Regions from separate parts of the Homo sapiens genome. Here all the other regions are linked to region 1. Evidence: fine-mapped expression QTL. A gene starts in region 1. Each other region holds a variant in brackets. All regions are shown on one strand. Distances are from middle to middle. Region 1 holds the start of CTBP1-DT (CTBP1 divergent transcript). Region 2 overlaps MAEA (macrophage erythroblast attacher, E3 ubiquitin ligase). Region 3 overlaps LOC105374347 (a long non-coding RNA gene).

The links.
Region 2: its variant is fine-mapped to the expression of CTBP1-DT in whole blood (TOPMed, PIP above 0.99). The same link has a PIP of 0.9 or more in lung.
Region 3: its variant is fine-mapped to the expression of CTBP1-DT in skeletal muscle (GTEx, PIP above 0.99). The same link has a PIP of 0.9 or more in tibial nerve.

Annotation. Positions count from the first base shown.
Region 1 is chr4:1,244,559-1,254,480 of GRCh38, forward strand. It overlaps CTBP1-DT (CTBP1 divergent transcript), which reads left to right and starts at 4,882. Exons shown (of 2, transcript NR_033339.1): 1 at 4,882-4,914; 2 at 5,553-8,449. It overlaps CTBP1 (C-terminal binding protein 1), which reads right to left and starts at 4,572. Exons shown (of 10, transcript NM_001012614.2): 1 at 4,358-4,572. RefSeq lists silencers at 3,461-4,180, 4,351-5,280 and enhancers at 5,651-5,700, 5,761-5,850.
Region 2 is chr4:1,336,410-1,346,331 of GRCh38, forward strand. It overlaps MAEA (macrophage erythroblast attacher, E3 ubiquitin ligase), which reads left to right. Exons shown (of 9, transcript NM_001017405.3): 7 at 452-585; 8 at 2,013-2,208; 9 at 2,665-3,728. The coding sequence ends at 2,760. It also overlaps a transcript of UVSSA not described here. Among named protein-coding and RNA genes, the nearest start is that of UVSSA, 5.8 kb to the right of the region's middle. RefSeq lists enhancers at 2,773-3,291, 8,516-9,039, 9,040-9,562 and a silencer at 9,858-9,922. The variant C/T (reference allele first, on the strand shown) is at 4,322.
Region 3 is chr4:1,276,736-1,286,657 of GRCh38, forward strand. LOC105374347 (a long non-coding RNA gene) reads right to left here. Exons shown (of 3, transcript XR_925046.3): 3 at 9,629-9,713. Among named protein-coding and RNA genes, the nearest start is that of MAEA, 8.2 kb to the right of the region's middle. The variant G/GTAAGT (reference allele first, on the strand shown) is at 4,422.

The DNA.
Region 1 (9,922 bases):
CCAGGACAGTGTCCCAAAAGCTCCTCCTCACCAACCCCATCTTCTTCCCCCTCCCCACAGCAGCCCCTAAAGCCGCTGCCCAGGAAGGGCTCCCCGACCACCAGAAGGGCACCCTAAGGCTGGGTGGTCTCAGCGGCCCTCACCCTGCCCTGTCCCCATAAGCCCTGATTACTCCGGGCTCGAGTGGCCCTCTCGTGACAAAGCTGCCCTGCCGTGAGTCCCCGGCAGCCATCTGGGCATTGGTGAGATGCCCCCTCTGGCTGTCCAGGCCTGGAGGCCCAAAGACTAGGGCCTGGCGGTGCTGCCCAGCCAGGGGCTGACATGAACGAAGGCTGTGCACAGCCTGACCCGGAGCCTTCCAGTCCTGAGATACAGCCACCTGCCGCCCAGAGAAAACTGAGGCCCTGCCCTGCAATGGCAGAGAAGGCAGGCCCCCAAGAGGGAGCCGCACAGCAGCATGGAGCCACTGGGCTGAGAGCACGGGGCCAAGAGAACCTCCCCCAGACAGACAAGGCCCGTCACCCACAGGTTGAAACAGCTCCTCCGACGACAGCACCCCAGACAGACACTGCCCAAGTCATCCACGAGCCGATACGGCACCTTGGACGGCAGCATCCCTGTGAGCCAGGGAGCCACCGCACTCCACGGGGCCTGCAGGGCCGCATCACAGCTCAGAGGACACAGCGCAGGGGCTGTGATCAAAGGCATGGATTTGCCAGCAAGATTCCTCTCCAGGACATCCGTGGAGCCGCACGTTTCCCTGTTTGTTCAGCGAGCACATGCACACAACCTGTGAGCTCCAGGAACCCCCAGAACGCCACCTTCCTGGCTCCTACCACATGTGGGGTATCAGGGCTACACCTTCCTCCCCTTCCCAACACAGTCTACACACGACACCACTGGAGAGACAGCCTCGGATGCCTCTGAGGCTCCTGCCAGCCACGCAGACAGGGCAGCCCAGGAGCCCCCACACCACAGACGGGCGGCAGGTCAGGGTGGCACAGGAGGGCACGGTGACACGGGCGGCAGGGAAGAGTGGCACGGGAGGGCAGGGTGACACGGGCGGCATAGCAGAGTGGCATGGACGGGCAGGGTGACACGGGCGGCAGGGCAGGGTGGCACGGGTGGGCAGGGTGGCACGGGCGGGCAGGATGGCACAAGCAGGTCAGGGTGGCACGTGTGGGTAGGGTAGCACGGGTAGGCAGGGTGGCTTGGGCCACACCAGGCCTGGAGAGTTAACGGCGGTGCCAGGGGAGGGTGCAGAAGGGGCCTGGTCCCAACACCGCCCACACCTCTCTCAGGGCCATAGCCCCAACGCCTCCCCAACCAAACCAACTGGGCTTCCCTCAGGGCCATCCTCACTCTCCTTCAACACCCGTGAGAACTGGTACCACCTGGGGCCGCCCAGAGAGACAACTCAAGGTTAACGTTTGGCTCGGCAAAGAGCCACCAAGAAATTTCTGGCTTCACAGGGAAAAAAACGAACATTTCCTTGTGGGAGATACCACATGGAATGTGTGGCCGGAGGGGCTTCTGGAAACGATGGTCAGTGACGCAGGTGGCACCTTGTGGGTTACCACGACCCAGTGCGGGGGAGAGCAGTGGGCTCCGGCCACTGCAGCTGACAATGGAGGACCCGGGGGTCCAGACACTCCCGGCACAGAGCTCTTACCCACAACTACCAACATCCAGCGACCACCAGAGGACCCTGGCGCTCCACCCGGCGCTCCGACCAGCGTTCCCTTGGGCGATGCAGTTCAACCACAGAACCCGTATGACACTGCCTGCTGCCTCTACCACCTCCTGGCCACCCCTGGGCCCTGGGCCAGGCCTGCACCGTCAGCACCACCTGGATGGAGCCCTCTCCAGCCCCCAGTGGAGTGGGAAACATTAAGTCCTTCTACAAGGAGAGTCAACCGGGGTAAACACCTCACAGGGCACACACCTTTGACTTGGGCACTGCATGGGGAGCACCAGGGCACAGCCGGGCACAAAGTGCTGCCTGAAGAGTTCTCAGCAACACTAGTGGTGCCAGCCACACGCCTCTTGGCTCAGTGACACCACCGTCAGCTCAGACCAGGTCACATTCTGGGGGTACTGGCCGCAGGAAGTTGAGAGGGCAAGTGACAGTCAGAGGAGAAAAACCAGAAAAACTGCCAGGCTGGTGGGGAACCAGGTGTGGCTTGACGGCCACCTCTAAGCCCCGAGGGAAGAGACTGGGCCTCTCGAGCCTGGGGCCCGTTTCCTGGAGAGCATGACTACTTCTGTCCAGGGTTCCTCCAGAAAAAATTTATTAACAGAATGATGGTTAACAGTTGCTGTCTGCTTACACTACAAATGTCCAAAGAGTGGGGGGCTCCCAGCCCTTGGGGGAGGCAGACAGGACGAGCCAGCACTTCCAATCCCACCAGGACATGGCAGGGGGCCGGCTCTGCGCCAAGCCCACAGGACTGGACCAAGGCTCGTCCCACTCATCAGAGGGACAGGACCAGCCCACAGTCCTGTGCACCCCGGGCCAAGCCTCTCCTCCCCCACTGCCACGTTCTCAGGTTAATGACAAGCGAGTAAAAGGGAAGATCCTACTCGCTGACATCCCCAACCACACGCCCACCTCTCAGAACTAACAGCTGCCCTGGTCAAGGCTGACAGGAAGAAGTGCATGTTGGGGACATGGCAGACACCCCAAAAATGGCCGGGCAGGCGGACGAGGCACCCCCAGGAGTGACCAGATGCCACCCCCAGTGCGTGTCCCTCCCAGAGCTCTGCAGAGGACGCCTGTATGGAAGCAGGTGCTCAAAGATGGGCAACAGAATCACAGAGAGCAAAAGGCGTCTGCGGAGCCGACAGCCCCAACCAGGAGCCAAACCCAGACCCCAGAGGGAGGTGGCCAGGCCCGGGCAGGCAGGGGAGACCTGGGAGGCCGGGTGCTGAGGCCCAGGGCAGAGCCACGCCCTACAAAGTTCCAGGACACAGAAAGGGGGACCCCCAAACCGCAGCTGTCATCCTCAGCTGCAACGGCAAATAGTTACCCCACGGTTCTCCCCCAACCCTGCCCCAAGCTGCAGACGGGTACACAGACGCGCAAAGGCCACGCGCTAGGAGCTCAGCGAGGACGGCCGCGGTGCGGGCCCAGCCGCCAGCGCCGTTTTCTTCCCGAGGGACGTGTGCTCCCTGCCGCGCTCCTACAGAAACGGTGGAGAGGCCGGGGAGGGGGGGGGGGCTCGGGCTCAACGGAACACCCTGCGCACCCGCCGCCTCGGCCCTAGCTCCAGGCCCTCTTGCCCCAACTCTCAGGGTTTCACCTCCCCACTCAGGGCACCGGGAAGGGCGCGACCGCCTTCCCTTTTCCCCACTGGAAGGGAATTCTGTCCCGGCAATCACGGAGACGACAGCAAAAGGGATCTGGCCCAGGCCGGGCTTCCAGACACCGGCGCCCTTGGAGGCCGCCAGAGAACGCTCCAGTCTCGGCCCGGGGCTCAGGCGCACGGACTCTGCCTTTGCAGCCGGGTCGAGGGAAAGAGAGGCTCCGCGCAGCGGCTCGGGCCGGCCCAGGACGCGGGCGCTGCAAGATGGCGATGGTGGCAAGCCCGGCGCCCGCCCGTGCTCCCTGCTTCCGCGGCCGCAGCCCGCGAGGAAGGCGCCCCGGGACCTGGGCGGGCCCAGGCAAGGGCAGGTGGGGGCGCTGGGCCGGTCCGGGACCTCGCGGAGTTCGCGGGAACGGAGACCCCGGGCCCTCCCGCGTCACCGCCGGGGGCTGCGCTTTGGGCCCGGTCTGAGGGCAGCGGCCTCCTCCACGGTCATACCCGGCACCCGCGCCCCGTCCCCTTCCCCCACAGCGCGCGGCCACGGTCGCCGGCGGCCTCCCCGCGGGAGGCGCGCTCCCGCGAGTGGCCCGGGAGCGCGCGCCCCAGGACACCCCGAGCTGCGCACGGCTCCCGCCCCATCCCGGCCCCGCAGGCCCAGCCACGGGGTCATGACCGGGGACGGGGTAGCGGCCGGGGATCGGGACCCGGGGTGCCGTCCCGGGTCCGACGGGGCTGGGGTCGGTGGAGCTGGGGGTCCGGCGGGGCAGCCCAGAGGCCCACAGGCCCTTTTGTGTCACCTGCACGGGCCGCGGGCGGGGAGAGCAGACTGCGGCGCTCGCGCACACGCAGCGGCCCGCGCATGCGCAAGACCCTTCCCGCGGTCCCGCCCCCGACCGCGGCCACGCGCGGACGCCGGCGCGCACGCGCACTCGCACACAAAGCCGGCGGCCCGCGGGCGCGCGCTCGGTCCGCCCCCGCGCCCCCCGCCCGCGCGGCACCCGCCCCGCCCCGCCCCCGCCCGCGGCCGGAAACGCGCGCGCGCGCGGCCTTACCAAGCGGCAGGCCCTTGTTGAGCAAGTGCGAGCTGCCCATCGAGAGGCGCGAGCGGCCGCGGGCCCCGACCACTCCGGCGCGCTGCGCCGCCGCGAGCCCGGCGCGTGGGGCGGCCTCGGCGCCGTCCGCTGCTCCGCCCGCCCGCCTGCGCCTGGCCGCCGCCGTGCCGAGTCTCCGCCGCGCCGCTGAGCCGCGCTCCGACGACCGCGCGGGCGGGGACACGGCGGCGCGCGCGGGCGGGGCCTCGCGGTTGGTCTCCTGGTTCCCAGCGCGGGCGGCGCACGGACTCACGCGGGCGGCTCAGGGCCCGCCCGGCCGGGACGCGGCTGCGGGGCGGGGCGGGGCGGGAGCCTGGCGGGAAGCTCGCGGGGCTGCAGCCCGGCGGAGGCCCCGGGCCTGGTGTTCCGCACGTTCTAAACCGCCTGTCCCCGAGGAAGTCGGGCAGGGTCGGGCCGGACTCAGCGCCGCTGGCGGGAGCGCCGTCCGCCCCGAGGACCCTGCGGGCCCGGAAGCCGAGACAGGGCCGCCCACGTCAGCGCCTGGCGCGGGCCCGAACGTAAATGGCGCTCCTCCGCGCCGCAGCCGCAGCCGCCCCGCTCCCTTCCCGCTCCGCCAGCTGCCGCCCTCCCGCGCTCGCTTCTCGCCCCGCGGCCTGGCCCGTGCGCCTCCGAGGCTGGCCAGGGGCACCGAGGCCGCGGGCCCCCCATCGCCCCCACCCGAGCCCTGATTTACCGTCCGAGAGCCGGCGGCACATGGGACCCCGAGAGGAGAAGCGCGCCTGCCCCAGTGCGTCCCCAGGCGGGGGAGCCCCGACTCCTGGAGGGACCGCGTCCTGCCCGGCCCGGGAAGTTCAGGGCTGGAGAACCCCTTCCCCGACCCCATTTCTCTTTTAACAAGAGTAGGGTTTGTAGCTAACCAACGTCCTGACAGCTCAGCTCTGCTTTCCCTTTAAGCATTAATATCAAAGCCCTGCCTGCTACCGGTGAAGCCCCGACCCGGGAGGGCCCGAAAGTCCCTTCAGGGAGAGGCCGCACTGGGCCTGCTCACCCAGGGGCTGCCCCTGCAGACTCTCCCGAGGGGCCCAGGGATATTCCTCGCGCCGCGAGTGGACGCTTCCATCCACCCCATGGGGAGGGCCTCTGCGCGTGGCTACTCTGAGCCCTCTGGAATGCCGAGATAGTTGCATAATTTCAGAAACCACGGCATGGAGACGGAATGATGCAGACTCCTATCCGCGAGATACCTGCTGTAATTTCGCTGTGGTTCGTGAGGACGCGTCCTGGGCTGCCCTGAGAAGCCTACGTCTCCCCTTCGAGGCCCGGGAAGACCTCCAACCCCGCTGACAATGCTGGGCCCTCAGCCAGACCTGCCCTGCGTGCCACGTTCTGTTCTAAGATCGGGCTGCCGAGCTGTGGCCTGGAGGAAACCTGGCAGGTGTCACCAGAGCTTTGGGGAGGGTGAGGCCCTGTCGGGGAAGCCCAGTGGGAGTCATGAAGGAGGGAACACGTGTGGAGCCCTTGTAGGGGGAGGGGCAGCCCTGCAGAGATCTAAGAAAAAATTCCAGAAAAATGAGCAGCAACCTCCAAGGCCAGGCATCGGTGCAGGGGACAAGGGGTCGTAGCTGGAGGGGCCTAGGTGAGGCTGCCGGGAAGGGACGATGTGGTTGGTGGAGTGCACAGGCAGGGACCTCACTGGACTTTCCTGTCTGCTCAGCATGGACAGGCAGCCCAGGAGAAGGCAGCACGTGGCCGGGTGCAGGGACGTACCACCCCCACTTCCCCAGGGGAGCTGGGGTCAGACGAGTCCCAGGCACTCCATCCTCTGCAGCAAGTCAGGTTGTGATTTACTAGGGGGTGGTGAATATAATGGAGAGACTTCTGGGGAGGAATTCCTGGCTCCCGCGTGGACTTGCAGAGCTCAACAGGCAGCCACGTGGCTGAGTGTCCAGCAAACATCACATAAGGCTTTGGGTCCTGCAGGTGGGGCTGCCATGAGCAGCAAGCTCAGTCCAGAAGAACAGTTCCTCTCCAGGATCCACTTCCTGCGCACTTTTATGTGCAGTGTAGCTGGAGCAGAGCTCCCCGGAATTCCACAGGCAACTGAGAACGGAGAGGGATGCAGGCCAGCCAGGGATCCAGCGTCTTCCCCATCGTCACTCTCCATGGCCTCCGTCTACACACAGTGTTCGTCTGCACAGCTTGTCAGCGCGTTATCATGACTTCTATTTGGCACCGGCCCGTCTGTCCACTGTCCTGGCTTGTTCCAAGCGCTGCCTTCTCCAACTGGGGTCCTGGCTGCAGAGCTGTCTGCTCCCCACGTTGGGCAACTCCAGCCAAGATTCCTACACCCAAATGTGACCGTGTTGCTCACGAAGAAGGCTCAGCTTTGCGTGTGCCCAGCCGTGTGCACAGCTCGTCCCAACTCCTGCGGGTGGCACCTGCCTCTCCCACCTCCAGTCTTTCCCCTGTGATGAGCAGATGACCACCGCCCTCCAGGGTCAGCGTTTGGCTGTTTGTGTGCCTGCCCACCCGCCTCCCTGTGCCTGGGCCTGCCCTGTGCCTGCACACAGGAGTGGCTCATGGCGTTTGCCCTACACGGATGGGCTGTCCTGGGAGCTACTGGACAGTCACCTTGGTGGGAATGCCAGAGGCATGGGCATTAGGTCCCCCCGGCCAGCCTCCGTTGCCACATGGGCTATTTTTGTCCATCGCGTGGGACAACCTAGTATTGGGGGAAAACTCAGTCCACTCTAAAGAAGCATCGGCGTTTTGGATGGACGAATGCTGCTTCATGCGACTCCATGTCAATGGACTATTTTATTCAACTCGGGTATTTATGAGTGTCTCCTCTGTGCCAGCCACGTGTGAAAGAAGAACTCCAAGTTACTGGACACCAGGACAAACCAGGTAGATCACTGCATCCGGTTCCTCCTCTTTCTGCCGACTCTCCCGGGCAACCGTTCTGATTCCTGGCATGGAGTTGGGGGCGAGCTCATCAGTACCCAGAGCGCCTGGTGTGCAGCCAAAGGCCCCCATTTTATTAGTCGGTGTGTTCAGTATCACGCTCAAGACAAGGGCCAACCTATTACTTCACACACCTCAAATACAAAAAGTGCCTGGGAACGTCGATGAGGTATTAAAGGAAACCACTGGTCTTGTCAGTCATGTACACACAGAAAAAAAAACCAGTCATTTTTATTTTTATTTTTTGAGACAGAGTTTCGCTCTTGTTGCCCAGGCTGGAGTGCAATGGTGCAATTTCAGCTCACTGCAATCTCTGCCACCCGGATTCAAGCAATTCTCCTGTCTCAGCCTCCCGAGTAGCTGGAATTGCAGACACCCATCACCACGCCCAGCTAATTTTATGTATTTTTAGTAGAGATGGGGTTTCACCATGTTGGTCAGGCTGGTCTTGAACTCCTGACCTCAGGTGATCCACCCACGTCAGGCTCCCAAAGTGCTGAGATTACAGGCATGAACCACTGTGCCCAGCCGAAAACAACCAAGAATTTTTTAACAATAAAATGACCAGCAAGTAAACTTGAAACAAAAATGGACAAATATCTAAAATATTTTTAAATGTATGTATTTTAATTGGCAAATAATACTTGTATATATTGTTTACAACTTGTTTTAAAGTATGAATACATTGTGGAATGGCTAAATCAAGTTAATTAACATGCATTAACTCACATACTTTTTGTTTTTTGGTGTGGTGAGGACACTTAACATCTACTCTCTTAGCAATTTTCCAGTCACCATGTCCTACTATAGATCCCTAGAACATATTCCTCCAATGTAACTGAAATGTATCCCTTGACCAACATCACTGCCCGGCCCCAGCCCCAGGTAAACACCATTCTACCCTCTGCTTCTGTGAGTTCAGCTTTTCTAGATTTCACCTGTGAGTGAGATTGTGCAGCATTTGTCTTTCTGTGCCTGGGTTTTTTCACATAATGCCCTTCTGGTTCATCTATATTGTCATATATGGTAGCATTGTCTTCCTTTGTAAGGCTGACTGGTATACCATTGCGTATATACACCACATTGTTTACCTAAAATATTTTTTAATACAATCGCTGAAAACTGCCACATAACTTGTATAACTGCTGTAAGGCTTGGTTTTCAGCCATAAGATGGGAAGAGAAGTAACATCTACCTTGCAGGATGACTGCAAGCTGTAAAATGCCACAAAGCGCAGGGGAGCCCAGAACCGCCGCAGCAGGACAGGTCCTCTGGAAGCAGACAGACCTGCCTTGTTACTTTAGCCATCCAGAGTCCAGTTTAGCCAGTGATGAAATGAGTACAAAAGAACACCTTTCTTGTAGGATTGCAAAATGATGTCTTCATCCATTCTGTGCTGCTATAGCAGACTCCTGCACACTGGGTAACTGACAGCTTACAGAAGCTTGTTGGCTTATGGTTCTGGAGGCTGGGAAGTCCAACCTCAAGGGGCTGCATCTGGTGAGGGCTTTCTTGTTGCATCATCACATCGCAGAATAGCAGAAGGGCAAGGAGAGAGAGAGAAAAGAGTGCTGAACCCACCCTTTGATAAGAAGCCCACTCCCATGATAATAGCACCAGCCCATTCAGGAGGGCAAAGCCCTCGTGGCTGCATCGCCTCTCAAAGGTTCCACCTCTCAAGATCATCACAATGACAATCAAACTTCATGAATTTTGGAGGGGACAATTATTCAAACCAGAACAGAGGGGGATGGCAAATGTTCTGAAAACAAGCCTAGAAATTGATCTTAGAAATGGTGCAAAAGTAGATTTCCCCTTCTGTCTTTACCTGTGATGGTCTAACCCCAAAAGCCTCCCAGAACAGAACTTGTGAGCACAAGATAGAAACAACAAACTTGATGCAGAGCTGAGCTCACAAGGAGGTCAGGGATGTGACAGGAACCAGAGACAAACAGAAGGCTGAAAACCAGGTCTTAAAGTGTGAGAGCCAAAGGGCAGCAGCCCAGGAGAGTGTTCGTCTGGAGCCCCGGGGTTTAAGTCTCCACACTCACATGGGAAAGGAGACGAGGCCTCCCTGGATCCACGTGAATCAGGAACTGGAACAAGGGCACTCAAAGGGCTACGCCATCAGGAGAGATGTGAATGAGTGTGCCCACAGGAACAGGAAGACAACAGGATGGTTCTGTGTTTGCCTGCCTGTTGTGGTTCTGTGAGACAGAAACAGTTTTGATGACAATTGATAATCAGGACTCAGAGCCTTGTTAGACTTCAGGTATTGAATTTTTTTTTGAGACAGGGTCTAGCTGTGTTGCCCAGGCTGGTCTTGAACTCCTGGGCCCAAGTGATCCTCCTACCTTGGCCTCCCAAAGTGCTGGGATTACAGGCATGAGCTACCGTGCCCAGCCTAGGTATCGAATTTTCACAGGTTTCACAGTCCAGGCCCTACCACCCCTGCAGCAAATAACTTGATATAAAACCTGGGCCCAGGCTAGTAATACCCTTGAAGCCCATGACAGAAGCAGGCACAGTGATAGAAGCAAAATCACGTAGACATTATCAATCTAGCCCCCTCCAATTCCTACCCATAAAGCCCACTGAAGA
Region 2 (9,922 bases), 92 kb after region 1:
TTGAAATCGGAGTTAAGTCAGCACTCACCCCACAGCATGTTAAAATCAGAGTTAAGTCAGCACTCATCCCACAGTGTGTTGAAATCAGAGTTAAGTCAGCACTTGTCCCGCAGCATGTTGAAATCAGAGTTAAGTTCATACTGGCCTCGCAGTGTGTTGAAATCAGAGAGTTAAGTCAGCACTGACCCTGTAGCATGTTGAAATCAGAGTTAAGTCAGCACTCATCCCGCAGCATGTTGAAATCATAGTTAAGTCAGCACTCATCCCACTGTGTGTATCAGTCAACACTTGAGGGAGTTATGCTTTGTGCTGACCCTTAGTGCAAAGTGTGTGGGTCACTGGGGGATGGCTGTGGGCCGATGGCACCTGCTTCACCATGGTCCACGTTTTTAAGCTGTCCCAGGAGCTTCCCTGGGAGCATCCCCAGGACCCTCTGCTCTCTGTCTTCCAGGACCTTCTGGACCCTGCACGGTGGCGGATGCTGATCCAGCAGTTCCGGTACGACAACTACCGACTACACCAGCTGGGAAACAATTCTGTGTTCACCCTCACCCTGCAGGCTGGCCTCTCAGCCATCAAGACACCGTATCCTACCTCCCGTGCGCAGTGCGGTTTGGCCTGGGGTTGGCATCTTTGGTCATATTTTAACACGCTGACCCTGCACCTTGCCACTCTTGTCCTCCCACCACAGACAGCCCCGAGCTCCCGTGTGCTGCACTTGCGTGGTGTCTGGATGGTCGGGGTGGGGCCGTGTTGAGGGGCCTCGGATGCGTCGTGCAGCCTTCACTCTGGGAAGTGGCGCGCTTCCTCTCTCATCATCTCAGAGGCCGCCATGGGCATTGATCTAAAAGCCCGATTTTGATGTGTTCTGGCAGCCGGCAGATTACCATTCAGAATAGTTTTCCCGTGTGATTACCAAGAACCTTGCCTGTGACTGACTCTGTCCCGCCTGTGACTGACTCTGTCCCACCTGTGACCGACTCTGTCTGCCTGTGACTCTGTCCCTGCCTGTGACTGACTCCATCCTGCCTGTGACTCTGTCCCACCTGCGACTCACTGAGTTCCTGCCTGTGACTCACTCGGCTCCCGCCTGCAACGGACTTGGTCCCTGCCTGCGACTCACTGTGGCCCTGCCTGTGACTGAGTCTGTCCCGTTTGTGACTGATTCCTTCCTGTGACTGACTCTGTCCCACCTGCAACTGACTTCTTCCTGCCTGTGACAGACTCTGCCCCTGCCTGCGACTGAGTCTGTCCCTTCCTGCAACTGAGTCCATCCCGCCTGTGACTCTGTCCTCGCCTGTGACTGACTCTGCCCCTGCCCTGTGACTGTCTCACCTGTGACTGACTCCGTCCTGCCTGTGACTCAGCCTCTTACTGACTCTACCCCTGCCTGTGACTGACTCTGCCCTCTCCTGTGACTGACTCTGTCCCCACCTGTGACTGACTCTGTCCCCACCTGTGACTGACTGTCCTCCTGCAACTGACTCTGTCCCCGCCTATGAATGTCTTTCATGTGACCTGCCTCAGGCCCAGAGGGCAGTGAGTGTTTCGCGATTGCTGCTGGTACCTGGCTGTGCCGGGGTATGAATGAGACTCAGGCCCCCTCCCTTGTCCCCTCTTTGTGGAACTCTGGGCGAGAGGGCTGGCGTGCTTGCCCACTGCCTGTTCCTAGGTGCCAGCAGAACGTCCCTGCTGGGTGGCTCTTGTCCTGCCTGGAGAGGTTGCGTGGCCGGGGAGAGGGCGGCGGGCGACGGAGCCACTCTGTGCCTGTGGTCCTGGTGCTGGAGGCCGGGGTGAGAAGGCGCAGGCTTCTTGTCTCCACCGAGGCCTCAGTGGGGCTGTTTAGCTGTCGAGTGCAGCACTTCCTGTGCCTCGAAAGACAGCCCCGTGTAGTCAGCATGGCGCCCACATAGCCAGAAGGGCACGCAGCCCAGGGCAGAGTGGCCACAGGGGGCTGGGCTCACCCCGGCTGCCCTGAGTGGCCCCCAACCCTTCCTTGACCCGATGCTCAGACAGTGCTACAAGGAGGACGGCAGCTCCAAGAGCCCTGACTGCCCTGTGTGCAGCCGCTCCCTGAACAAGCTGGCGCAGCCCCTGCCCATGGCCCACTGTGCCAACTCCCGCCTGGTCTGCAAGATTTCTGGCGACGTGATGAACGAGAACAATCCGCCCATGATGCTGCCCAACGGCTACGTCTACGGCTACAATGTGAGGGGGGCAGGGCAGGGGGGCCAGGCTGGCACGCATCGCCATCGGGACAGGGCTGTGTGGGACGGGCAGGGCAGGGGGGCCAGGCTGGCACGCATCGCCATCGGGACAGGGCTGTGTGGGACGGGCAGGGCGGGGGGCCAGGCTGGCACGCGTCGCCATCGGGACAGGGCTGTGTGGGGCGGGCAGGGCAGCGGGGCCAGGCTGGCACACGTCGCCATTGGGACAGGGCTGTCCTCTCGCCCCACCCTGCCTTAGCTTCGTTCGAAATGGATGAAGGGGTGGGAAGGACAGGCGAGGTGGCCCCGGGATTTCTTTGGCAGGTGTGCCTTCGGGAAGGAACTTTGCCTGAGAGGATGAGTCATTCCCTGGTGGTTCATTGTGGGGATTTTCCATGGAAATCCGTGTGTACGTTGTAGTCGCTTGCCTTAATGCATTCCCGGTTTTATTTTTCAGTCTCTGCTTTCTATCCGTCAAGATGATAAAGTCGTGTGCCCGAGAACCAAAGAAGTCTTCCACTTCTCACAAGCCGAGAAGGTGTACATCATGTAGGCCCCACGTCGTGAAGCGCACGCCTCGGGGACGGGCTGCAGTGGGCGGGGAGGCCACGCCTTCCTCCTGTCCCACGCTCCAGCCTGCCGCGGCGTTTCTGTTTCTTGCGACCAAAGATCCGTGAGCAACGATAAATACTCTTAGGAAGAGAGAAAATAAGGTTTCATAAGTTTGTACTTGAAAACATTTGGATTGGTAGGATTTTGTAACACGTCAACCATTTGATGCTTCTGAAAAGTACTTTCAACTTGCGAAGGAAACTCTTCTTTAAAGACTGACCTAAACACCGAGGGAAACTTAAGAACGTTTAAAATATAGGAGTCCGTGATTTCCCTGTGTTTTCAGTTTCTTTCCTTCTGTGAACGATGAGACTTGGAGAACGGGCTGGTCCTTCACCACTTCCTGTTGGCCCTGGCCTGGCCGGGGAAGGTGGCAGCGGCACCGGACTGACCTGCAGTGACCCGCGATGCCGCGCCACGAGGGACACTTATGGCTTCATTCGAGAGCTGCTGCCAAAACGCCTGGCGCCGCCACCGTCGGGGGCTGGCTTCGAGGACGCCCGCCTGCCTCGCGGGTCGTGTCCGCGGGACTGTGTTCGTACGTGCATAGTTTCGATATCACATCGCGGGGCTGTGTTCGTAGCTGCGTCGTTTCGATATCACACCCTCTGTGTGCCGCCTTACTTCCTGCTTCGAGAATGTATAACGTGGAAATCCACGGGACCAAATTTCTGCAGAGGCCTTGCCGGATGGTTCCATAACTGTAGAGTCTAATTGCTATCCATTACAGAAATTAATCGTTCAGTTGAAAGAAGTACTGATGACTTTTCAAAACAAATGAACCACCGTAGCTGACAGAGAACCGTATCGTAGAGGTTTGTAGTTAGTGCTTATTTTTGCATGTTGATGTTGACTAGCTAATAAACTGTAAATGTAAACCATGCGAATAAAATGGTTTTCTATTTCTCATTTCCGTGTGAGCCGAGGCTGCCGTGCGTTTCTAACACCGAGGTTGTGTTCTGCTCCTCCCCGGGGCCCGGGCAGCATGGCGGGCATATGCGTAGCTTCTGGCACCACGGCCACCGGGAGTTGAGAAGCCGGCTGGAGGCCACTCCTGCCCGGACCGCAGTCCTCCTCTCGGGCGCTGCCCTGAGGCGTGATGGCCCCAGCGTCTTGAGGCCCCGGCTTGCAGCTGGGTGAATCAGACACTGGTTCCTGGGACCCACGGGCCATTGTCTGTTGGGGGTGGGGGCTCAGGCTGCAGCCACCAGCAAGCCTGGGCCTGCGGCTTGGGCTGAGTCTAGGGTTGGGCTAAGGAGGCCTGCGGGCTGTGGCCACTGGCCCTTCCCCCCACCGCCCACCCCTGTTCTCTCCAGTGCCCCGTCGCAGCTCCTGTGGCCAGCCTGGTGCCCCTTAGCCCATCTCTTACCCCATGGTGGCTGCCCTGGCCCCTCCACAGCACCCAGCTGGAACCCACCACATTCCCACGTGCTCTTCTTTGGAGCGCCCGTCCCCAGGTCCCCTCGGCCGAAGCAGACCCTGTGGCCCCACTGCCACGCAGC[C/T]GCCCCGGCCTCCACCGTCCTCACGTGCAGGGGCTTTCCTTGTCTTGCGTCCTGTTCTTTCCTTTTTAACTCGAGTAGAACATACTGGAGCACACACATTCTAAGTTCACATAACGAATTTCTGTGTAACATGCATGTAACCACCAAACAGACTGTTCCCAGCCCCTGGCCTTGCCCGGTCAATATCCTGGTCAGTCATCATTGGAGTGGCGCACCCCGGCCCTGAGCTCCTCGAACACAGAGCCACATGGCGTGGGTCCGTGGCTCAGCGTTACTCGGCGGCTCAGCCCTGGCACGGCAAAGTCTTGCCTGGTTACAGGCCTGTGCTCTCCAGGCAGAACAAGCGCAGCGGCCTGGCCCCTCTCCCGCCGGTGGACATCAGGCGGTGTCCAGGTAAAGCTGCTGTGAGCACTCCGGGAGGTGACCCTTGCTGGACGCATCATTCTTTTGTGGGGAGATGCCGAGGAGTTGCCATTGCTGGGCCACGTGTCCACTCAGCAGACACTGACGGTTTGTTAAAGGGGTTGCACCCACTTCTGCCCATCTGCTCCACATCCACACCAGCGAGTGGCACTGGGAGTCTTGAATGTGAGATGTTTTGTTGGTTGTGTTATCTCGCTGTACTCTTTCTCAATTGAGGTAAAAATTACATACACCAAAATGCACATACAAGTAAAAGCTACTCAATGAGTCTTAATAAATGTACCTCCATGTGACCACCACTGAAGCCCAGGCATGGAACGTCCCCATGGCCCCAGAAAGGGACCCCTTGTACCTTCTGAGTTATCCACAACCCCTACACAAAATCATTGCTCTAATTTTTGTCACCGTAGGTGAGCTGTGCCTCCATAGGTGTCAGATGGTGGAATGTGGACACTGGTGGATCTGGCTTGTTTCCACAGACGCTTGTGAGGTTCATGCCTGTTGCACATGTCAGCAGTTCCGTCCTTAGGTGTTGCTGAGTGGAGTGATAGTAATCCATGTATGCACAGACCACAGTGTACACCAGGCTGGAGTGCAGTGGCGCAATCTTGGCTCACAGCAATCTCTGCCTCTCGGGTTCAAGCGATTCTCCTGCCTCAGCCTCCCGAGTAGCTGGGATTACAAGTGCACACCACCACACCCAGCTAATTTTTGTATTTTTAGTAGAGACGGGGTTTCACCATGTTGGCCAGGATGGTCTCAATCTCCTGACCTCATGATCTGCCTGCCTTAGCCTCCCAAAGTGCTGGGGTTACAGGTGTGAGCCACTGCGCCCGGCCTGTATCCATTCTCTTGATAGACATCTGGGTTGTTCCCTATTTGGGGCTATAATAAGTAAACCTCTTATGAACATTTGTGTGCCAGTCTTCTTGCAGACATTATTTTCATTTCTTTGGGAAGTAATTCTCTGGAAGTAGAAGGAACTGAGTCATGGTGTGTTTATGTTTAACTGTACCACAACTGCCAAAGATTTATCCAAAGTTGGTGGTAGTGTTTTACACTCCAGCAGCAGTGTGAGGATTCCAGTGGCCCCACATTGTTGTCAACACTTGGTAGTGTCAGGTTAGTCATTCAGGTGGGTGTGCACTGGGGCCACAGTGTGATTTTCCCTTGCTTTTCTTTGATGTCTGATTTTGACCTGATGCGCTGATTGTAATTTACATATTTGTCTATTGCTCATTTTAAATTGCATTATCTTACTGATTTGTAGGGATTCCTCACATACAAATCCTTTGAGGGATATGTGTATTTATACTTTATTGACTGTCATTTGATCAGCAGATTTTTTAAGTTTTAGTGCAGTTCAATTTATTCTTTCTTTTGTGGCTAATGCTTTTCTATGTTCTAAAAAAAAAATCTGCCTATTCCAGGGTTGCAATAATATATCTTCCAGAAGATTCAGTTTCGGCTTTTAAGTCTGTAACACATCTCTTAACTTGTGTGTGTTGTGTGAGGAAGAGCCTGAGGATGATTCCCCACCATCCCATATGTTTACTCTATTGTTCTAACACCATTTGTTAAAAAGACCTTTCTTATCCCGTTGAATAACGTTGGCTCCATTAGAAAAAATTCCTGGCTGTGTTAAGTTGGGGTTTATTTCTGGACACTACCTTCTGTTAGACTGGCCTTTAGGTCTATCCTTGTCCTAACACCACATTATCTTAACTATTGCCGTTTTAAGGCAAATCTTGAAACCAGGGGGTATGATGAGTCCTCCAGTTCTGCTTTTTCAGAATGGTCTTGGTGGTCCTAGGTCTGTTGCATTTCCACGCACGTTGTAAAATCAACTCATCAGTGTCTGCTGAACACTGTAAAAAGTGTGCTGGGATTGTCACTGGAACTGCAGTGAACCTATCATCCCTATTTGGGGACGGTATTAGTTTGCTCGGCTGCCGTAACAGAAGACCACGGACTAGCGGGTTTAAACAATGGACATTTATTTCTTCACGGTTCTAGAGGAGATGCTGGCAGGGTTGGCTCCCGGTGAGGCCTCTCTTCCCGGCTTGCAGACGGCCCCCTTCTCACTGTGTACCTCTCGTGGTGGACTTCCTCCTGTGCACACACATCTCAGGAGTCTCTTCATCTTACGAGGACATCAGTCCTATCAGATGAGGGCTCTATCCCTAGAATCTCATTTAACGTTCCCCTCTTTAAAGGCCTCATCTCCAAATAAAGTCACATTGGAGGTTAGGGCTTCGACATAGGAATTTGGTAGGCAGGGGCCACAATTCAGTCCATAACAAGGACTTATAAATCATAACAATATTGAGTCCTCAACCCATGAATATGGTATATCTTCCTGCAGATTTAGATCCTTCTCGCATCTAAGGTATTGCCACCTCCAGGAGGCAGATCATGAGGTCAGGAATTCGAGACCAGCCTGACCAACATGGTGAAACCCTGTCTCCACTAAAAATACACAAATTAGCCAGGCGTGGTGGCACGTGCCTGTAATCCCAGCTACTCGGGAGGCTGAGGCAGGAAAATCGCTTGAACCCAGAGGGCAGAGGTTGCAGTGAGCCAAGATCGCACCATTGCACTCCAGCCTGGGTGACAAGAGTGAAACTCCGTCTCAAAAAAAAAAAGTATTTATAGAACTTTTCATTCCTTTTATAAAGTTTGCCTCTGGTATCATTTTCCTTTCATCTGAAGAGCATCCTATAACAGTTCCTGGACTGCAAATCTGCTGGTCATAATTCATGCAGCTTTTGTCTGAAAATGCTTTTACATCACCTCAGTTTTTAAAGGCTATATTGCTGCATATACAGTTCTAGATTGACAGTATTTTTTCTTTTACCACCTTAAAGATGTTCCATTTTCTTCTGGCTTTTTTTTTTGGGTGGAGGGGGAGGAGGGGACAAGAAATCCTTGGCTTCTTTGTGCCTGTATGTCATACGCCTTGTTTAATCTGACTGCTTCTAAGATTTGTCACTAGTTTTCTGCAATTTAAGATGTGCCTTGGGTGGTTTTCTTTGTTTATCCTGCTTGGGTTTTATCATCTCTAAGTTTCCATTGGTTCTTTTAAAATATCTTTTAGAAGTATCTTCTAATTCTTGGCTTGGTGCAGTGGCTCATGCCTGTAATCCCAACACTTTCGGAGGCTGAGGTGGGCAGATCACTTGAGGCCAGGAGTTCGAGACCAGCCTGGCCAATATGGTGAAACCCTGTTTCTACTAAAAATACAAAAATTAGCTGGGCGTGGTGGTGGGCGCCTGTAATCCCAGCTATTTGGGAGGCCAAGACACGAGAATCATTTGAACCTGGGAGGCAGAGGTTGCAGTGAGCCGAGATCACACCACTGCACTCCAGCCTGGGCGACAGAGCAAGACTCTGTCTCAAACAAAAACAAACAAGAATATCGTCTAACTCTCATCATGATTTATCTTGGCTTTCTAATCTTATCCAGCATTCAACAAATATTGAGCACCTGCTTTTTGTCTGGCTTCATGAAACAAAGATCCCTATTTTCAGGGACTGTATGTTTTAGGAGTGAAGAGAAAAAAGCGAATCACCTAGTAAGACAGTAAGTCTGTGTGACACAAGGGCCAGAAGTGCCCTGGGAACAAGCACGGCAGGTTTAGAAAACGGATGGGGGGTGTTGAGCCAGGGAGGTGAGCGGGTGCAGAAGTATTTGCTCAGGGTGAGACATGAGCAGTGGCTGGAAGGAGGCAAGGAACTCTGTGGATACTGGCAGAAGCTTCCCGGCAGAGGGATCCGCTCCCCAGAGGCCGTGTGGCAGCAAGAGCAGGCTGGAGAAGTCAACCGGTGGGATGCAGGGGGCAGCAAACACAGGCCACGACAGGTTTTGCCTTGCCCTGGGATGGGAGCCGTCGGAGGATTTTGTGTAGAGGAATCCTGTGATCCGACCTTAGACTTTCAAAGGTCCCTCTGGTTGCTGCATGATGGTCTAGGGGTACCAGGGTGCAAGGGAAAGACAAGGTGACGGCAGTGACCTGCTGCAGGGGTGGCCAGGAATTGGCAGTGGCAATGAGGCAGTGGGACGTGCTCAGATCTGGATGTGTTCTGAAGGTAGGGCTGTCAGGATTTGCAAACCAAATGGGCATGGAGTGAGAGGAAGAGAGAAGCCCAAGTGAGTCAGATAATTGGTCCAAGCGAACAGAAGGATGCAGGGCAGGCCCAGGCACGGTGGCCCAGGCACGGTGGCTCACGCCTGTAATCCCAGCACTTTGGGAGGCCGAGGCGGGCGGATCACCTGAAGTCAGGAGTTCGAGACCAGCCTGACCAACATGGTGAAACCCCGTCTCTACTAAAAATTCAAAAATGAGCTGGGCGTGGTGGCGGGTGACTGTCATCCCAGCTACTCGGGAGGCTGAGGCAGGAGAATCGTTTGAACCCGGGAGGCGGAGGCTGCAGTGAACCGCGATCGTGCCACTGCACTCCAGCCTGGGTGACAAAGCGAGACTTTGTCTCAAAAAAAAAAAAAAAAAAAAAAAAAAAAAAGGCTGCAGGGCCATCAGCGGATACAGAGGGCAGTGGACGGGCAGCTTGGCTGTGCTGTTGAGCCTGAGGGCTGAGAGGACACCCCGGGGCAGTGTAAAGGAGACTGGACTTAGCAATTGGTAAGAAAAGTTGGATAAAGAGAGGGTTTTGTTAGTATGGGAGAAACGGCACCCTTTTATACTAATGAGAACTAGTAACAACAAAAAAAACCACGCTGTAGAAGACAGAGGGAAACTGCTGGATGGGTGCCTTGGAGGAAGCCACAGGCCGGGGATTGGATGCACAGGGCAAGGGGCGCTGAGGGAGGGTCTGGCTGCAGCTTGCTCAGTGAAGCAAGAGGCAGGGTGAGGAAGGGGTGAGGCGGAGGAGCGGCTCGGGGCTGGCTGCAAGCTAGGAGCTGGGAGCCACTGACGCCCAGGGACAGAAGCTGGTGCTGCAGAGAGGGGCGGCGCAGGGAGTCCCTCTTCTTTTCCTTTTTAAAATAATTGCTTTACTGAGATATAACTCACACATCCTGAAACCCACCCTGTAAAAACACGATTAACAGAGTTGTGAGCTACCACCACCGTAATGCAAGGGCACGCCCATCCCCCCGAAAAAGAAACCCCGGCCCGCCGCCGGCGGCCCCCGCCCTGCACCCAGCCCCGGGAGCCCAGT
Region 3 (9,922 bases), 32 kb after region 1:
GACAGGTGGGCGATGAGCACATGAAGAGATGCCCAGCACCATTAGTCCTGGGGCACACGCAGACTGAATCCACCCAGAGATGCCGCTTTCCACCAATGACAGTGGCCATCATCAAGGAAATGGAAAAAGACCAGCATTGGCGAGGACATGGAGAGGCTGTAACCCTTGTGTGTGCACTGCTGCCGGGAATGGAAGATGGTGCAGACTCTGTAGGAAACGATTTGGCAGTTCCTCAAATGGCTAAAAATAGAACTTTCTTATGGCCCAGCAATTCCACTGCTGGGTTTAGATCCAAAAGAATTGAAAGCAGATACCTGTACACGAATGTTCATAGCAGCATTATATACAATAACCAAAAGCTGGAAACACCTAAGAGTCCGTCCACAGAGGAATGGATACACAAAGCTTGGTCACACATACAATGGAATACTATTTAGCCATGAAAAGGAATGTCCATGGGACATTCTCCAGGATAGACTACATGTTAAGCACAAATTAAGCCTCAGCAGATTACAAAGGATAGATATCATACAAAAGAATCCTGTCTGACCATCACAGTATAAAGTTAGAAATCAGTACCTGAAGAAAAATTGAAAAATGTACAAAATTTATAAAATTTACAAAATTTGACTTTGGGGCATGCTACAAGATGGGTGGACCTTGAAAACATTATGCTTAGTGAAATAAGCCAGACCCAGGAGGACAGATGTTATTCCACTTAGATGAGGTACCTAGGACAGGCAGCCTAATAGAGACAGAAACTAGAACTGATGTTACCAGGGGCTGGGGGCAGAGGGGAACGAGGAGTTCTTGTTTAATTGAGGCATCGTTTATGTTAGGAATTATGAATGTTTTGGGTATAGATAGTGGTATGGGTACCTAACATTGTGAATATAGCTAATGCCACTGAATCGTACACTTACGAATGATGAAAATGAGAAATATTATGGTACATATTTTTTACAAGAAAAAACTATCTTTTAAAATTCCTCAATTTTATTTAACAACAAATAACAACATCTCTAGGCCAGTGTCCAGTCTTCCCCTGAGGTGCAATGCCCAGAGAGGAGCCCTGCCTGTGGGGTGGCCCCTCACCTGGGGTGGGCAGTACCCGGGAGGCCCAGATGCGGCATGAAGCTGCCCCAGGTGGGCAGATGGAGACCCCGTGCCAGCGGCAGTCACCTCCCATTTCCACCCCCATCCAGCAACTGTCAGTCTGATCCTGTCCCTACGGATTTGCATTTTCTGGACATTTCCTAGTACTGGAGTCACACGCTATACACTCTTCTGTGACCGGCTTAGCTCCCTTAGCTGGTGTTTTTGAGGTTCACCTGCATTGTGGCACGTGCTTGTGTTTCACTCCTTTTCATGGCTGCATGATATTCCGTCATGTGATGGGCGATGTGTTGTTCATTTATTCACCAGTAGATGGGCACCCGTTTCCACATTTTGGCTGAATAGTGCTGCTATTACATGTGTAAACTTTTGTTGGAATGCCAATTTTCAGCTCTTTGGGGTATCTACGTAGGAGTGAAATTGCTGACTATGCTAACTCTGTTTAACTTTTGGGAACCTGCCAAAGTACCTTCCACAGCAAGTGCATTCATTTTGCACCTACCAGCAAAGTAGGAGGTTCCCACTTCCCACAGTCTCCTTGACGCTGGCCACTTGGATTTGGCTTCCTGGCAGCTATGAAGCCATGTCTCAGTGTCACGATTCACCTTACCTGGTGACTCATGGTGGTGAGCCTCTTTCAGTGACGAATTGGTCATCTGTAAGTCTTCTCAGCAGAAATGTGTACTCAGTGCTTTGTCCATTTCTTAAGGGGTTGTCTTTTTGTTGTTGAGTTGTAAACACTATATATTCTGTCTCCAAGTGTCTTATCTAATATGATTTGCAAATATTTTCTCCCATTCTGTAGGTTGTCTTTTTGCTTTCTTTGTAATGTCCTTTGATGCACAAACATTTCTAGTTTTGATGAAGTACGATCTTTCTGTTTTTCATTGTGTTGCTTGTACCTTTGGTGTCATAGCTGAGGATCCTTTGCCAATTGCGCCCTGGACTTCCCAAGTCATGCTCTGCCCTGGCCTCTGCGTCCTCGCTCCTCCCTGGTCCTCTGCGTCCTCGCTCCTCCCTGGTCCTCTGCGTCCTCGCTCCTCCCTGGTCCTCTGCGTCCTCGCTCCTCCCTGGTCCTCTGCGTCCTCGCTCCTCCCTGGTCCTCTGCGTCCTCGCTCCTCCCTGGTCCTCTGCGTCCTCGCTCCTCCCTGGTCCTCTGCGTCCTCGCTCCTCCCTGGTCCTCTGCGTCCTCGCTCCTCCCTGGTCCTCTGCGTCCTCGCTCCTCCCTGGTCCTCTGCGTCCTCGCTCCTCCCTGGTCCTCTGCGTCCTCGCTCCTCCCTGGTCCTCTGCGTCCTCGCTCCTCCCTGGTCCTCTGCGTCCTCGCTCCTCCCTGGTCCTCTGCGTCCTCGCTCCTCCCTGGTCCTCTGCGTCCTCGCTCCTCCCTGGTCCTCTGCGTCCTCGCTCCTCCCTGGTCCTCTGCGTCCTCGCTCCTCCCTGGTCAAGGGCTGCATCCTTGCGTTCTGTGAGCTCTGCCCGTTGGGAGCATCCATGCTGATGTGCAGGGGCCGTGCAGCACTGCATTCTTCTTGCCTTCTCTGTTCTGTTTAGTACAACCACCCCAGCAGGTCTCCAGTTCCTGCCAGGTTAGTGTGGATGGCCCAGCACCATCTCCTCTCCATCTTGTTGGCTATCCTCTCTTGTTCCTCACAACCCCGCCAGGGTCGCGGCTCAGGAGCTCTGCCGTGTGAAGTGTGCTCAGCAGTTCTCCTCACATGTCTACGCAAAATCTCTGGCTCCCTGTGTGTCTGAGCCCAACAGACACACTGAGCACAGGAGTTGGCTCTCAGCTCCTCCCAGCTTGCCGTGACTGAGCCCTGCCGTCCTGTGGCACCGCCACGGAGACCACAGTGTCCAACTGTCCAACCTTTACGTAATTGGCATCCCAGGAGGAGAAGCAAGAGTGAATGGGGCAGGAAAAGATCATTAAAGAAATCGTGGCTGACATAAAAAAGGATGAGTTCATGTCCTTTGTAGGGACGCGTGGATGAAGCTGGAAACCATCATTCTGAGCAAACTATCGCAAGGACAGAAAACCAAACACCATGTGTTCTCACTCATAGGTGGGAATTGAACAATGAGATCACTTGGACACAGGGTGGGGAACATCACACACCGGGGCCTGTCGTGGGGTGAGGGGGATGGGGCAGGGATAGCATTAGGAGATATACCTAATGTAAATGACGAGTTAATGGGTGCAGCACACCAACATGGCACATGTATACATATGTAACAAACCTGCATGTTGTGCACATGTACCCCAGAACTTAAAGTATAATAAATTAAAATTAAAAAAAAGAAATCGTAACTGGAACTTTTCCCAATTTAATTCAAGAAACAAATCTGCAGATACGGCCGGGCAAGGCGGCTCACACCTCTAATCCCAGCACTTTGGGAGGCCAAAGCGGGTGGATCACTTGAGGTCAGGAGTTTGACACCAGCCTGATCAACATGGTGAAACCTTGTCTCTACTAAAAATACAAAAATTAGCCAGGTGTGGTGGTGCACATGGGTAGTGCCCTACGAACACAGAATTCTGAGGGGTCCACGAGGTGTGGAAGGGCAGCAAGGTTTCCAGTAAATACAAGTAAGGGTGTCACATCCAGGACGGAGTGAGCAGGGGCCCCAAAGCCCAGAGAGGCCATGCCTTCTGTTTGAACCAGAACATGCCATAAACACAGAAGAAACGGGAGTGCTAAGAAACACATACCCCATCATGTACTTCTTACGCATGGGACTTCCTCACATCAGAACTGCGTGTGCTTGCAATCCCAGCTACTCAGGAGGCTGAGACAGGAGAACTGCTTGAACCCAGGAGACAGAGTTTGCAGTGAGCAGAGATTGCACCACTGCACTCCAGCCTTGGCAAAAGTGCGAGACTCTGTCTCAAAAAAACCCCAAATCTTGCATATACAAGATGGTCAACGGTGAGAGACATCCCATCTGCACCTGTTCCCGGCACCCCAGCTGCATAGAGCATGGGTAGTTCCCCACGAACACAGAATTCTGAGGGGTCCATGAGGTGTGGAAGGACAGCAAGGTTTCCAGTGGGTGCAAGTGAGGGTGTCACATCCAGGACGGAGTGAGCAGTGGCCCCAAAGTCCAGAGAGGCCATGCCTTCTGTTTGAACCAGAACATGCTATAAACACAAAAGAAACAGGGGAGTGCCAAGAAACACATACCCCATCATGTACTTCTTACGCATGGGACTTCCTCACGTTAGAACTGCGTGTGCTGAACATGGTGGACAGGAGGAAAGATGAGGCAACCCACAGTTCCTTTTCCCTCCAGACACCCCTTACTTGTCA[G/GTAAGT]TAAAAGTAGAGGGCATTGGTAAAATATGTGCACATCAGAAATGAAATCACAGCTGCATTAGCTTCATGCAGCACTCCATGAAGAAGAACAAAACAGGTCTGTGCAATCGAGCTGGGAAGCACAGGCCTCGTGAGTTTGGTGACGCAGAGTTCGAACTAAAGCACTTACGTTTGCATTTAAAACTGGCGTCAGACAAATGATGGTGAACACTATGATTTGCTTATGTTTGCACTTAAAACTGGCGTTGGACAGGCTGGGTGCGGTGGCTCGCGCCTGTAATCCCAGCACTTTGGGAGGCTGAGGCGGGCGGATCACAAGGTCAGGAGATCAAGACCATCCTGGCTAACACGGGTGAAACCCCCTCTCTACTAAAAATACAAAAATTAGCCGGGCATAGTTGGCGGGCGCCTGTAGTCCCAGCTACTCAGGAGGCTGAGGCAGAAGAATCGCCTGAACCCAGGAGGTGGAGGGTGCAGTGAGCCACGATTGCACCATTGCACTCCAGCCTGGGTGACAGAGCAAGACTCCGTCTCAAAAATAATAATAATAAATAAAAATAAAAATAAAAAATAAAACTAGCGTTAGGTGACGATGAACACTACAATTCGTGTGAATAACTGCTTATTTTTCTTTACTTAGAATGACATTAAATGATGAATTTTAAAAATGCCATGATGTGGGCCAGGCGCGGTGACTCACGCCTGTAATCCCAGCACTTTGGGAGGCTGAGGTGGGTGGATCACACGGTCAAGAGATTGAGACCATCCTGACCAACATGGTGAAACCCCATCTCTACTAAAAACAAAACAAAACAAAAAAACAAAAATTAGCCGGGTGTGGTGGTGGGCGCCTGTAATCCCAGCTACTCGGGAGGCTGAGGCAGGAGAATCACTTGAATCCGGGAGGCAGAGGTTGCCGTGAGCCGAGAGCACGCCACTGCACTCCAGCCTGGCGACAGAGTGAGACTCCAACTCAAAAAATAAATAAATAAGATAAAATAAAATAAAATAAATGCCATGATGCAGAGGCTGCAGTGAGCTGAGATTGTGCCACTGCACTCCAGCCTGGGCGACAGAGCAAGACTCCATCTCAAAAAAAACCCAAAAAAACCCACTATGATGGAAACAGTCAACAGAGGGTGGAGACGACCTGTTGAATGGGAGAAAATATTTGCAAACTATTCATCCAACAGGGGACTAAAATCCAGAGTATACAAGGAACTCAAGCAACAATAAAAAAAAAAATCCCACTAGAAAGTGGCCTGAGGGCACTTTTAGCCCCCAAAATAGAAATGTCTATTTTGGGAATAAACATATCTCAAAAGAAGACAGACAAACAGCCAACAGGTGTATGAAACAATGCTCAGCACCTCTAAGCATCGGGGAAGGGCAAGTCACCACCACGACGAGACGTCATCTTACCCCAGTTACACGGGCTCTTATTAGAGAGACAAAAAATAACAGATGCTGCTGAAGATGCTGAGGAAAGGGAGCTCTCACACACGGTGGGTGGGCGTGTACATTAGTGACGGCCGTACCGGTTAACAGTGAGAACGGTGGGTGGGCGTGTATTTTAGTGACGGCTGTACCGGTTAACAGTGGGAACGGTGGGTGGGCGTGTACATTAGTGATGGCCGTACAGGTTAACAGTGAGAATGGTGGGTGGGCGTGTACATTAGTGATGGCTGTACTGGTTAACTGTGGGAACGGTGGGTGGGTGTGTACAGTAGTGATGGCTGTACTGGTTAACCGTGGGAACAGCGGGTGGGCGTGTACATTAGTGACGGCCGTACCGGTTAACAGAACGGTGGTCGTGTACATTAGTGACGGCTGTACTGGTTAACTGTGGGAATGGTGGGTGGACATGTACAGTAGTGACGGCTGTACCAGTTAACAGAACGGTGGGCATGTACATTAGTGACAGCTGTACCGGTTAACAGTGAGAACAGTGAGTGTGTACATTAGTGACGGCTGTACCGGTTAACCGTGGGAACGGTGGGTGGGTGTGTACAGTAGTGACGGCTAACCGTGGGAATGGGTGGGCGTGTACATTAGTGACAGCTGTACCGGTTAACAGTGAGAACAGTGAGTGTGTACATTAGTGACGGCTGTACTGGTTAACCGTGGGAATGGTGGGTGGGTGTGTACAGTAGTGACGGCTAACCGTGGGAATGGGTGGGCGTGTACATTAGTGACAGCTGTACCGGTTAACAGTGAGAACAGTGAGTGTGTACATTAGTGACGGCTGTACCGGTTAACTGTGGGAACGGTGGGTGGGTGTGTACAGTAGTGATGGCTGTACTGGTTAACCGTGGGAACAGTGGGTGGGCGTGTACATTAGTGACGGTCGTACTGGTTAACAGAACGGTGGGCATGTACATTAGTGACAGCTGTACTGGTTAACTGTGGGAATGGTGGGTGGACATGTACAGTAGTGACGGCTGTACCGGTTAACAGAACGGTGGGCATGTACATTAGTGACAGCTGTACCGGTTAACAGTGAGAACGGTGAGTGTGTACATTAGTGACGGCTGTACCGGTTAACCGTGGGAACGGTGGGTGGGTGTGTACAATAGTGATGGCTGTACTGGTTAACCGTGGGAACGGTGGGTGGGCGTGTACATTAGTGATGGCTGTACCGGTTAACAGTGGGAAGTCCCTCCACCAACAGTGGAATTTCTCAAAAAACTAAAAGTAGAACTACCATCCAGCAATTCCACTACTGGGTATTTATCCAGAGGAAAAGATGCTTGGCCCAACCGAAGCTACCTCAAGCACTCACCTTGGCTGGGCCCCACCTGGGAGCAGGGAGGCCACCGTCCAGCACTGGCAGGTGTCCGGCCTCCTCCTCCAGGGAGCCGGGAGGCCTTTACTGGAGACATTTACAAACAGATGTTGTGAAGATAACAATTGTGTGGCTTGAGTCGATTCCACCTCTACAGCTAACCATAGGAACTAATTATAGTTTGTATTACTAAATACTTTTAAGGGAAAATCAGATGCTATTTTCTTACCAACAAAACAGTCAGTGCTCAAGCCCAGGAGTTTGAGACCAGCCTGGGCAACATGGTGAAACTCTGTCTCTGCAAAAAAACTTTAAAAATTAGCTAGGCATGATGGCATATGCCTGTAGTCCCAGCTACTCAGGAGGCTGAAGTGAGAGGATCGGTTGAGCCCGGGAGGTAGAGCCTGTAGTGAGCTGTGATCGTGCCACTGCACTACAGCCTGAGTGACAGAGCAAGACTCTGTCTCAATAAATAAATAAATAAATAAAAACCAACAGAACAGTGAACTGTGTAAAATCTTGTTACCTGATGTGAGGTACATGTTTCATTCATTCAAGAATTAAGTTTTTCAGCAGGTGTTAACCACCTCCTAAGAGATGTGTGGATCAAAATAACGACAGGGGCAACTCCAGCGCAGAAAACGGATCTGGCTGGGTGAGAGGAAGGGCTGTGTCGTGCAGCTTGGGGCAGAGTCACCCCCTCGAACTTGAGGGGGTTACCTTTAAGTAGCAGAGCCCTGACGTCCGTCCATCAGTGGAGATAAGAAGGGCCCCAGGATGTGGACCCCCTGCAGCATGTGATGTGAGCTGGCTATGACAGTGCGTCCCTGAGCCACAGGTCAGGTCCTCCCACACGGCCATGCAGGAGGCACCCAGCACCATCCGTCTCTGGGCTGCTTTTCTCTGCGTGCTCCTGGCCCACCCACACAAGGGAACCACGTGTGCCCCACAGCTCATCCCTGGCATAGCTGATTAGTCCAGATGGACAGCCAACCCACACTGGGCAAGACTTTGGAGCCTAAGATTTTGGAAGTTTGAACCAAGAGACGCAGAACATGGCAGCTGTTGAATGCTATACTACGACAAAAAGTATATTTGGTCTTGGTCCCTGGTTCCGGTCACCAAGTGTCTAAAACCCTTGCGATTTCCTGAGTGTGGGAGCGTCTTCTTTCTTCATAAGGAACTCCTTCCCACCACACCTGAGTTTATGTTAATGAAGTGACTCTGGGTGGGGCCTCCAGATATCACTAGAAAGACCCGGAGATTGGTTGGCAGGAATTCTCAGCCCCTCTCCCACTCCACCTCCACCTCTGGGGATGAGGGGGGCTGGGGATTGAGATATGAAAATGTGTGAATAATGAGATTCAGGAGAGCCTCCTGGCTGGTGGATGCCCCGAAGTGCTGAGCGGCTGCCGCGCAGAGAAGGCTTGGGAGCTCCTCGCCCCACCATGCCCGATGCACTCCCGTTAGCTATTCCTGAGCTGTGTCCTTCATAATAAGCTGGGAAGCATTAAGTGTTTCCTGAGCTCTGTGAGTCATTCTAGCAAATTATTGAACCTGAGGAAGGGTTTGTGGGAGCCCCAAATGTGTCATCTGCCTTGTGGGTGGCCTGGGCACCCCATGTGCAGCCGTCACCTGGAGTGGGGACAGCCTTGTGGAACGGAGCCCTTGGCCTGTGGGGTCTGTGCTAACTCTGCGAGTGAGTGTGAATGGGGTTGGATTGTAGGATAGCCAGTTGGTGGCAGAGTCTGACAGCTGGACAATTTCAAGTTATATAAACCAAAAATAAGATACTAAGCTCCCCCAACTGACTGAATGGAACCCCCTACCCCCACCTTCAGCCAAGGGGGTTTCAAAGAAACCTGAAAAATCAGTTCAGGACACGATGGCGGCGCATGACTTTTCTTGGTCACTTGTCAGCCAGAGACCCCCAGCCAGCGACACCCTTGCTCAGGCCCAGGTTTGCCACAGGAGATGCCCATTCACTTGGCCCATCATGTCATGCCAGGCCCGCACTCCAGCGTTTGCGGCTGTTCCGACTGTGCACTCAGCCCCCAGTGGGAGGGGGTGTGAGCGAGTGAGTGCGGGGTCCAGCCAACGGTTCCAAGTGTCAGCACAGACGCAGGCTCCATGCAGGGCTTGTGGCTGGACCAGGCATGTTGCAAGCCACTCCCATGGTGGACTCCGGCGTCCAGACAAGGGGAACACGGTGGCGCCCAGGTAGGGGTGCTGTGATCCTGAAGCCCCAGAGGGGGTGTTACAGCATGCTAATTAGCTCTTTTAGTCTGCATCCTGATGGACAGTGGTGCGTCAACAGCTCTGTCAGCCGCTTGCCCCGCATCAGCCCATGGCTCCAGGGCTGGCTCAGTCCCACTGCTGCTTCTGTCACATGGGGTGGCTGCCCTCTGCTGGTGAAGGGCAAAGGGTTATGGAGTTACAGCCTTCTCTGTATTCACATTTGGTGCATCCTGAGCTCTTGTCCCACGTCCAAGAAGAATGATGATACACTGACAATTGAAGGGTGAGGAGGATGGAGAAGAATTTTATTGAGTGACAAAGCAGCTCTCAGTGGAGCAGGGATGTGAGGGTGGTCCCCCACCTGAAGTCGGATGGTTTCTCTCTCCATGTGGCTGGGTTTGGGGCTTTCATGGGCTCAGAGTGCACACTGATTGGTTTGTGAGGATGCAAAAATGGCTAAAACAAAGGCATCACTCAA